Linked DNA regions of Homo sapiens. The protein of the gene in region 2 interacts with the protein of the main gene of each other region in a pairwise test. Each region holds a gene or a part of one and is shown on either strand. Other genes may lie near its edges. The genes, in order: SLC16A2, TMEM254 and TMED8.

Region 1 (2,629 bases), on a different chromosome or scaffold from region 2:
TGTTAGTCACCCACTATAATCAACTGCCAAAGGTGCTACTGTGTCCCCAGGAGCCTAATAGGGTAGGCCCAAATCTCTGTTTGCTGAGGAGGTCATTGCCATCCATATTTGGGAGCCACTGGGTGGAGGGGCAGGGAGGCAAAATGAGACAAGTAGCCTTGGTTAGTCTTAGAGTTGCTGATGACTGTGGCTTCCCAAGAACTGGGTACAAGCAGTGCCCTTATTGTATGGTTGGTTAACAGTCTGCTCCCCTCTTCCCTTCCTTCTTTTTTTCCTCTACTGACTTCTCTCCATACTCTTTCCCCTCTATTTCTTTGTATGACTGTCATAGACACATGGGTGCTTGAAGAAAGGAGGGACCCGGAACTTGGGCCAATCAGCCTCACCTTGTCCCAGTCCACTCCTAACACTAGCATCAGTCCCACTCATCTCAGGCTGAGCCACATCTCACTTTTTCGCTCAAGCTATATAATCCTAGACTGGAAGAGTAGAATATCATATAGGGAAGAAACCTTAAACACCACAGTGTTCCATGTTCCAGTCACTGATTTTTACAAATCTTACAGTCCAAGGCATTAACCTCAAGGCCCTCCCAGCACCCCATTCTTGTATACACATGGCAAAATGTGAAGAAACTCCTTTCATCTCAGCAGGTAGAGGAGGACTGATGACACGAGCTGCCATGGCGGGAGGAGGGGCAGTAGTTATTGATATGGTGAGCCCCATCTCTCAGTTTTCATGACAGGTCTATATTTCTACCTGGGCCAGGCCAGGAAAGAGACTATTTAAGAAAAAAAAAATCAATTCCTAGCCTGGATCCCAAAAAGGTACAGGCAGCAGTTGCACATAGGGTTGGAAAATTTCTTTTGGGAAGGGGAAGCCATCCCAGCCTTTACCACCCAATGTGTCTCCCATGCTGGGCATCCTAGGCCACTTTGCTTAGAGGGCATTAAAGGTGCCATGAAAGGTAGACTCTGAACCACTTTGATCCCTCTGAAGTAGGTGACTGATGCCTCCTTATGCCCAGGCTCTGGCAACAGTCTTACTGAAGAACATTCCCAGTGCCCCTGGCTAGGGGCAGAGGGCACTGCCAGGCTGTGTTCAGTTAGCACAGCTCACCTCATTAGGAGCTCAGCCTCTCTCCTCACTCTGCCTCTTTGTGTCTCTTTTTCTCCTCTCTGAGCCTTTGTCTATTGTGTTCCTGTCACCCACCCTTTCATCATCTTTTTGCCAGGCATTCCTGGCTGTCACTTGGAGCCAACAGTAACTTGCCACCTTAAGGCAGGGTCATCCCCGGGCCAGGAGGATGAGGTTGTCCTGAGGGGCTCCAAAGAAGACAATAGTTCCCACTCATGATTTTCCGTTACAAACAGGCAGCTGGGGCATGGTTGGCCTCCAATGATTTCATTCAAGGCCAAAGTCCTGAGCCCCCTCCGCTGGTCCCAGTCCAGCTCTTATCAACTCCCCAAAGGAAAACCCACTGGTTCTTAGCTCTGTGGGTAGGAAGGGGCCCTAGAAAGGGCCTAGTTACTATCCTGTCAGTTCTAACAGTAGTGGAACAGGAGAATCTGGGCCCTAGGAGCCCTGTAACTCCCAGGAGAGACCACTGAAAATACTGGAGCAACAATGCCCCTGCTTCCATTTCTCCCCACCTCACTCTCACCAAGTCACCAGAGGGTGGTTCTGTAGGACCTCTTTTGTTGCTTAAGATGCAGATGGCTCTTAAGAATCAGGCAGTCGCCCACTTCTCTCCAGATGAAGGGAAGACATTCATAGGTCCCAAATCTGCCCATTCAGATGTCACATAATATGGTGGGATATCAATTTACTTCTTCCACACATGTGGTTGTGCACATGTGAGCTTGTGTGCTTTTGGAGAGAATGTTGATTGGCAAAAGCAGCACAGTATTAATATTTAGAGTAGGATGCAGCCTCTTATGCACCACAGTTAAATCTAGAACGAACAAAATTTCAGAGCTCAAGACATGGGACATTTAAATCCTCAAGGAGTTTGGAACAAAATAAACAGATCTAAAAATTTGGTTTGGGTATGTATGTTGCCTACAAGGAAGAAATAGTCTTAACCTGATTAATAGCAGAAAGTTTGACTTCAGAGCTGAAGTCTCCTTTCAAATCAAATTTCTGCCAGGTTCTATGCTCTCTGTGAGAGCAGACATTAGAAAAAGAGCTATATAGGGGTTTGGAGTTGGTTGACTATTTGAGATTGGATTTTTAAACAAGCTCTGAAGTGGAAAAGTGGTTACTTCACAAAATGAGAATGTGGTTACTTGCTGAGTTGGAATGGAGGCCCCACCAAGGCCACAGCCTTGCTACAAATGTGCCATATTGAAAACTGGCATTAATAATAATCCAATTCAGCTCTCCTTCCCTCTCCCTTATGTTATTGATGGGGAACCTAAAGGGACTTATATGGCTGGCTGACACAGCCTGGCAGTGACAGAGCCTGGAATTAAGGATGATGCAGGAGACAGACCTATAAGAATGACAAAGCTGAGAGTAACCTTAGAGTCTCCCTTGTCCATCCTGTGCATTGAATTTAAGTGGAGAGACTGAGGCCTAGAGGTAGGAAGAGACTGCAGTAGGTTCACACAGTTCATCAGTGACAGAG
Region 2 (2,360 bases):
CTCCTTTAATATATATATAATTTTTAAGAGGTTTTACACATTGTTGTTACATTAATTTCCAGCAACTTCTACTTTGAGATGTTATTATAAATGACTTTTTTTTAAAAAAAGATGGAGGGTCTCCAGGAGGCTGAGGCAGGAGAATGGCATGAACCCGGGAGGCCCCGGAGCTTGCAGTTAGCTGAGATCATGCCACTGCACTCCAGCCTGGGCGACAGAGCAAGACTCCGTCTCAAAAAAAAAAAAAAAAGATAGGGTATCATTATGTTGCCAAGGCTGATGTCAAACTCCTGGGCTCAAGCGATCCACCTGCGTCGGTCTCCCAAAGTGCTGGAATTACAGGCCTGAGCCACCACACCTGGCCAACTTTTGTTGTTGTTTTTGTTTTTGTTTTTTGAGATGGAGTCTAGCTCTGTCGCCCAGACTGGAGTTCAGTGGCATGATCTTGGCTCCCTTTGTTTCATTTCATTTTCTAATTGTCTGATGGTACTTTGTATGAATATAGTCAATTTTTTATATTGACCTTATACCCAGCAATCTTGCTAAATAAATTTATTAATTGTAACAGTTTATAGATTATTTTCAGTTTTTAGGTATAAAACTGTCCAGAAATACAGTTTTATTTCTTTCTTTCAATTCTGTATACCTTTTATTTATGTTTCTTCCCTTATTCTACTAGCTAGAACTTCCAGCAGTGCTGACTAGAAGTGTGCCTTGTTCTTGACCTCAAAGGAGAACTTTCAACATTTTGCATCATGTTTATTATAGAGTTTTGTAGATCTCCTGTGTCAAAATTAGGAAGTTCCATTGTATTTCTAACTTTGCTGAGAAGTTTTATTAAAAATGGATGTTGGATGTGGATGCAGGTGGCTCACACCTGTAATCCCAGCACTTCGGGAGGCTGAGGTGGGAGAATCAGTTGAAGCCAGGAGTTCAAGACCAGCCTGGGCAACAAAGCAAGACACTGTCTCTACAAAAAACAAACAAAAAACCTAGCCAGGCATGGTGGTGCGTGCCTGTGATGATCCCAGCTACTTGGGAAGCTAAGGTGGGAGGATAGCTTTAGCCCAGGAGTTTGAGGCTGCAGTGAGCTATAATTGTACCAGTACACTCCACTGTAGGTGACAGAGTGAGACCCCATCTCTGGGGGGGTTGGAAAAAGAATGGATGTTGAAATTTGTCAAATGCAGCCGGGCGTGGTGGCTCACGCCTGTAATACCAGCACTTTGGGAGGCCGAGGTGGGTGGATCACGAGGTCAAGAGATCGAGACCATCCTGGCTAACACAGTGAAACCCCATCTCTACTAAAGAAATACAAAAAATTAGCCAGGCGTGGTGGCGGGCTCCTGTAATCCCAGCTACTCGGGAGGCTGAGGCAGGAGAATGGCATCAACCCGGGAGGCAGAGCTTGCAGTGAGTCAAGATCGCGCCACTGCACTCCAGCCTGGGTGACAGAGCGAGACTCCATCTCAAAAAAAAAAAAAAAAAGAAATTTGTCAAATGCCACTTCTGCATTTATTAAGATATTCATATGATCTTTCTGTTTTAATCTGTTACTGTAGAAAATTATATTGCTTTTACATATATTGTTTTTAAAGTTTGTTTTAAATAAAAGTCATCCAAGTGAGACTTATTTATGTACAGATGAGACTGTAGCAAGCCATTCCCTTCCATTGGGTCATCTTTTTTTTGCACTTCATTTTAGGCAGTTGAATTTGAATGACAATATAAGCAGGTGTTTATCATGACTGTGTGCCAGGCTCCTTCCTGAGCATGTTGTGTGTATTATCCCATAAATCATCTCAACTGACTCAGTGAGATAGCTACTGCTGTTCCTGTTTTTCAGATGAGAAAACTGATTCTGAGAGATTCTGAGTGATTTGCCCAGGTCACAGCTGGTAGGTAGCCACGCTAGGATTTATATCTGGTCTATTTGCAAAACATTTGCTCTGAAACCATACCAGTGCTTTTTACTCCATCCGCTCATCAGAATCACATGAGAAACAGTCTTATAATACTGTGCCCTAGACAGTAGCCAGACTAGTTCTCAGGGAATAGTTTACCATCCAAAATACATTTGTTAGAAAACAAGAAAGATGAAAAATAAATGAACCATCCAAGATAAGCCAGAGAAAAGCAGCAAAATAAACCCAATGAAAGTAGTGGAAGGTATAATTTAAAAAATATATATATAGAAGACAATAACTCCCATGAAACTGTAAGATTAACATCTCGTGTTTAAATTTTGTTTTTTCTGTTTTAGGCATAAAGGCATCACAAGTGGTCGGGCTCAGCTACTCTGGTTCCTACAGACTTTCTTCTTTGGGATAGCGTCTCTCACCATCTTGATTGCTTACAAA
Region 3 (2,450 bases), on a different chromosome or scaffold from region 2:
ACTGTCTAATTCACTATTTTCATGTTACATTTCTGAAATAATTGAACTTTAGGGGCAAGATACTACTTACTGAAGCACAGGTAATTACTGAGAACCCACAGCCCAGCAAATTCTAAGAGACAGTCATTTCCTCAGCCCCTCCCAGTCCAAATTTATAGACCCAAACAATGAAATGAAAACCGTTTGCTTTGATCCTCACCCTGTTCTCTAGAGCACAAACAAATAGTAACAAACAATTGAAAGAAAGTGCTTCATAGTAGGAGAGAGATTGGAATTCTCTATAGTGACTGAGTTCTTAAATTTCTTTAGTTTTAGTTTTGCCACTTTGTTGAGAGATGGGCCTTTTAGAAAGGAAGACATATTTAAAGTATTGATTTCTTTTCCCCCAGTGTTTTATTGTGAAAAAATTTCAGCAAACAGCTTAAAAGAAATATAAATATATTGTAAACCAAAAAGTATCTGAGACAGGTCTCAATACATTTAGAGGTTTATTTTGCCAAGGTTCAGAGCCCATGATGGGGCCTCAGGAGGTTCTTAGAACATGTGCCCGAGGTAGTCGGGTTACAGTTTTATACATTTGAGGGAGACAGAAGGTCCAGGCAAAGCCATAAATCAATACATGTAAGGTATACACTGGTTTGGCCTGGAAAGGCAGGACATCTTGAAGATGGGGGTTTCCAGGTCAGAGGTAGATCAAAGAGTTCCTGACTGGCAGTTGGTTGAGAGAGTTAAACTTTACCTGAAAAGATGAAGTCAGCTTAAGTTAAAGTAAGGGAGGCTTGGCTTAAGTCATGTAGATGAAGCCTCCAGGTAGCAGGCTTCAGAGAGAACAGATGATGAATTTTTCTTTTTAGGCCTTAAAAGGTGTCAGACTCTCCAGAAAAGACCTAATAAGAGAAGGAGATTCTCTACAGAATGCAGTTTCCCCCACAAGAGACAGCTTTGTAGGGCCATTTCAAAATACGTCAAATAAATATATTGGGGGGTAAATTTCCTTTGGGGCCTGCTGTCATGTGATGCTATACCAGAGTCAGGTTGGGATTTGGTATTTTATTGCCACAAAGGGTCTGTTTGGTTAGTCTTAAGATCTCTGTTTTAATGTTAATGCTGGTCAGTTGTATTTAAATTCCAAAGGGAAGAGGGTAATATGAGGCACCCTGTAATCTGACCATAATATGAGGCACCCTGTCTTCCCATCATGGACTAGTTTTTCAGGTTCCTTTGAGATCCCCTGGGCCAAGACAGGGGTCCATTCAGCCGGTTGGGGGATTTAGAATTTATTTTTGGTTTGCTGTATATATATGTATACACACACTCCCCGCATAAATGTAAAAATTTTAAACTACCAATTCCTAGGCAAAGATGATTCTAACATTCTGTTCCTTTTGACAAGTGTCCAATTAGAGAATGCTGAGAATGTCCCCTGCATATCGGCTCTGTTGGAGAGCCCCTGATTTTTAGCAGACCTGTTTCATTCAACATGGGTTACCCAGGAGGTGGTCTTCATAAAAATGTTTCTTGGAGGCCAGGCGCCGTGGCCCACGCCTGTAATCCCAGCACTTTGGGAGGCCAAGGTGGGCAGACCACCTTAGGCCAGGAGTTCGAGACCAGCCTGGCCAACATAGTGAAACTCCGTCGCTACTAAAAATACAAAAAATTAGCTGGGCGTGGTGGCGGGCATCTGTAATCCCAGCTACTCTGGAGGCAGAAGCAGGGAGAATTTCTTGAGCCCAGGAGGCAGAGGTTGCAGCGAGCCGAGATCATGCCACTGCACTCCAGACTGGGCAACAGAGCAAGATTCCGTCTCAAAAAAAAAAAAATTGTTTCTTGGTCTCCATCTTTCAAGAAAATACATCTGTGCTGTATTTTCCCCTTCCCTCAGGCCATGATCTCTGCTGTTTTCCTTACTAACTGGCATGTCAGTACAAGAGTGATTGTGAAGCTGCTCCGGAAGGGCTTTATGCTAACCTCTGTTGCTTGATGACATGTCCTCAGGACTCTGATATTAAAACTCAATCCTTAGATAACAGGTAGCTTTATCATGGAAGTAGGTAGCAATTTGGAATTAGACCATTCTTAGTTATTTTTTTCTTAATGAATTGATACATGCACTTTAAAAAATATTTTTGTTATTTTGGGAAGAAAAACTCAGACTTTTAAAAAAGTGTATATTGTCCCATTATAATATGTATATGGAAGAGTGAAATCTGAACGCTGTCTTATATTAAGCAGTAGAATTAGGTATTATCATAAAAAGTCTTAATCTGTAGGGAATATGAGTTTATGTTTATGAGTCCTGCTCAGTCCCTCTTTGAGAGAATTAGTTGAAACCCAGACTCTAAAGTCTGCTTTTATATTTGTTTGTTAAGACCACTTATCTGCAGAAGGTTGCCTTTTAACCCCAGTGGTTCTAAGGTGTGGAATTGAGTGACCCTAATATTTACATAAGA

What was found.
Region 1: the proteins of TMEM254 (region 2) and SLC16A2 interact in a two-hybrid assay, tested with the Homo sapiens proteins (one large-scale study listed by BioGRID).
Region 3: the proteins of TMEM254 (region 2) and TMED8 interact in binary tests that used the Homo sapiens proteins (3 or more experiments, as listed by UniProt).

Annotation. Positions count from the first base shown.
Region 1 is NC_000023.11:74,531,876-74,534,504, forward strand, and holds the end of SLC16A2 (monocarboxylate transporter 8), read left to right. Parts: 3' UTR 1-2,041; downstream 2,042-2,629. UniProt on the Homo sapiens protein: Specific thyroid hormone transmembrane transporter, that mediates both uptake and efflux of thyroid hormones across the cell membrane independently of pH or a Na(+) gradient.
Region 2 is NC_000010.11:80,088,534-80,090,893, forward strand, and holds part of TMEM254 (transmembrane protein 254), read left to right. Parts: intron 1-1,846; coding exon of another isoform or gene 1,847-1,879; exon of another isoform or gene 1,880-1,898; intron 1,899-2,263; coding exon 2,264-2,360.
Region 3 is NC_000014.9:77,336,764-77,339,213, reverse strand, and holds part of TMED8 (protein TMED8), read left to right. Parts: 3' UTR 1-2,450.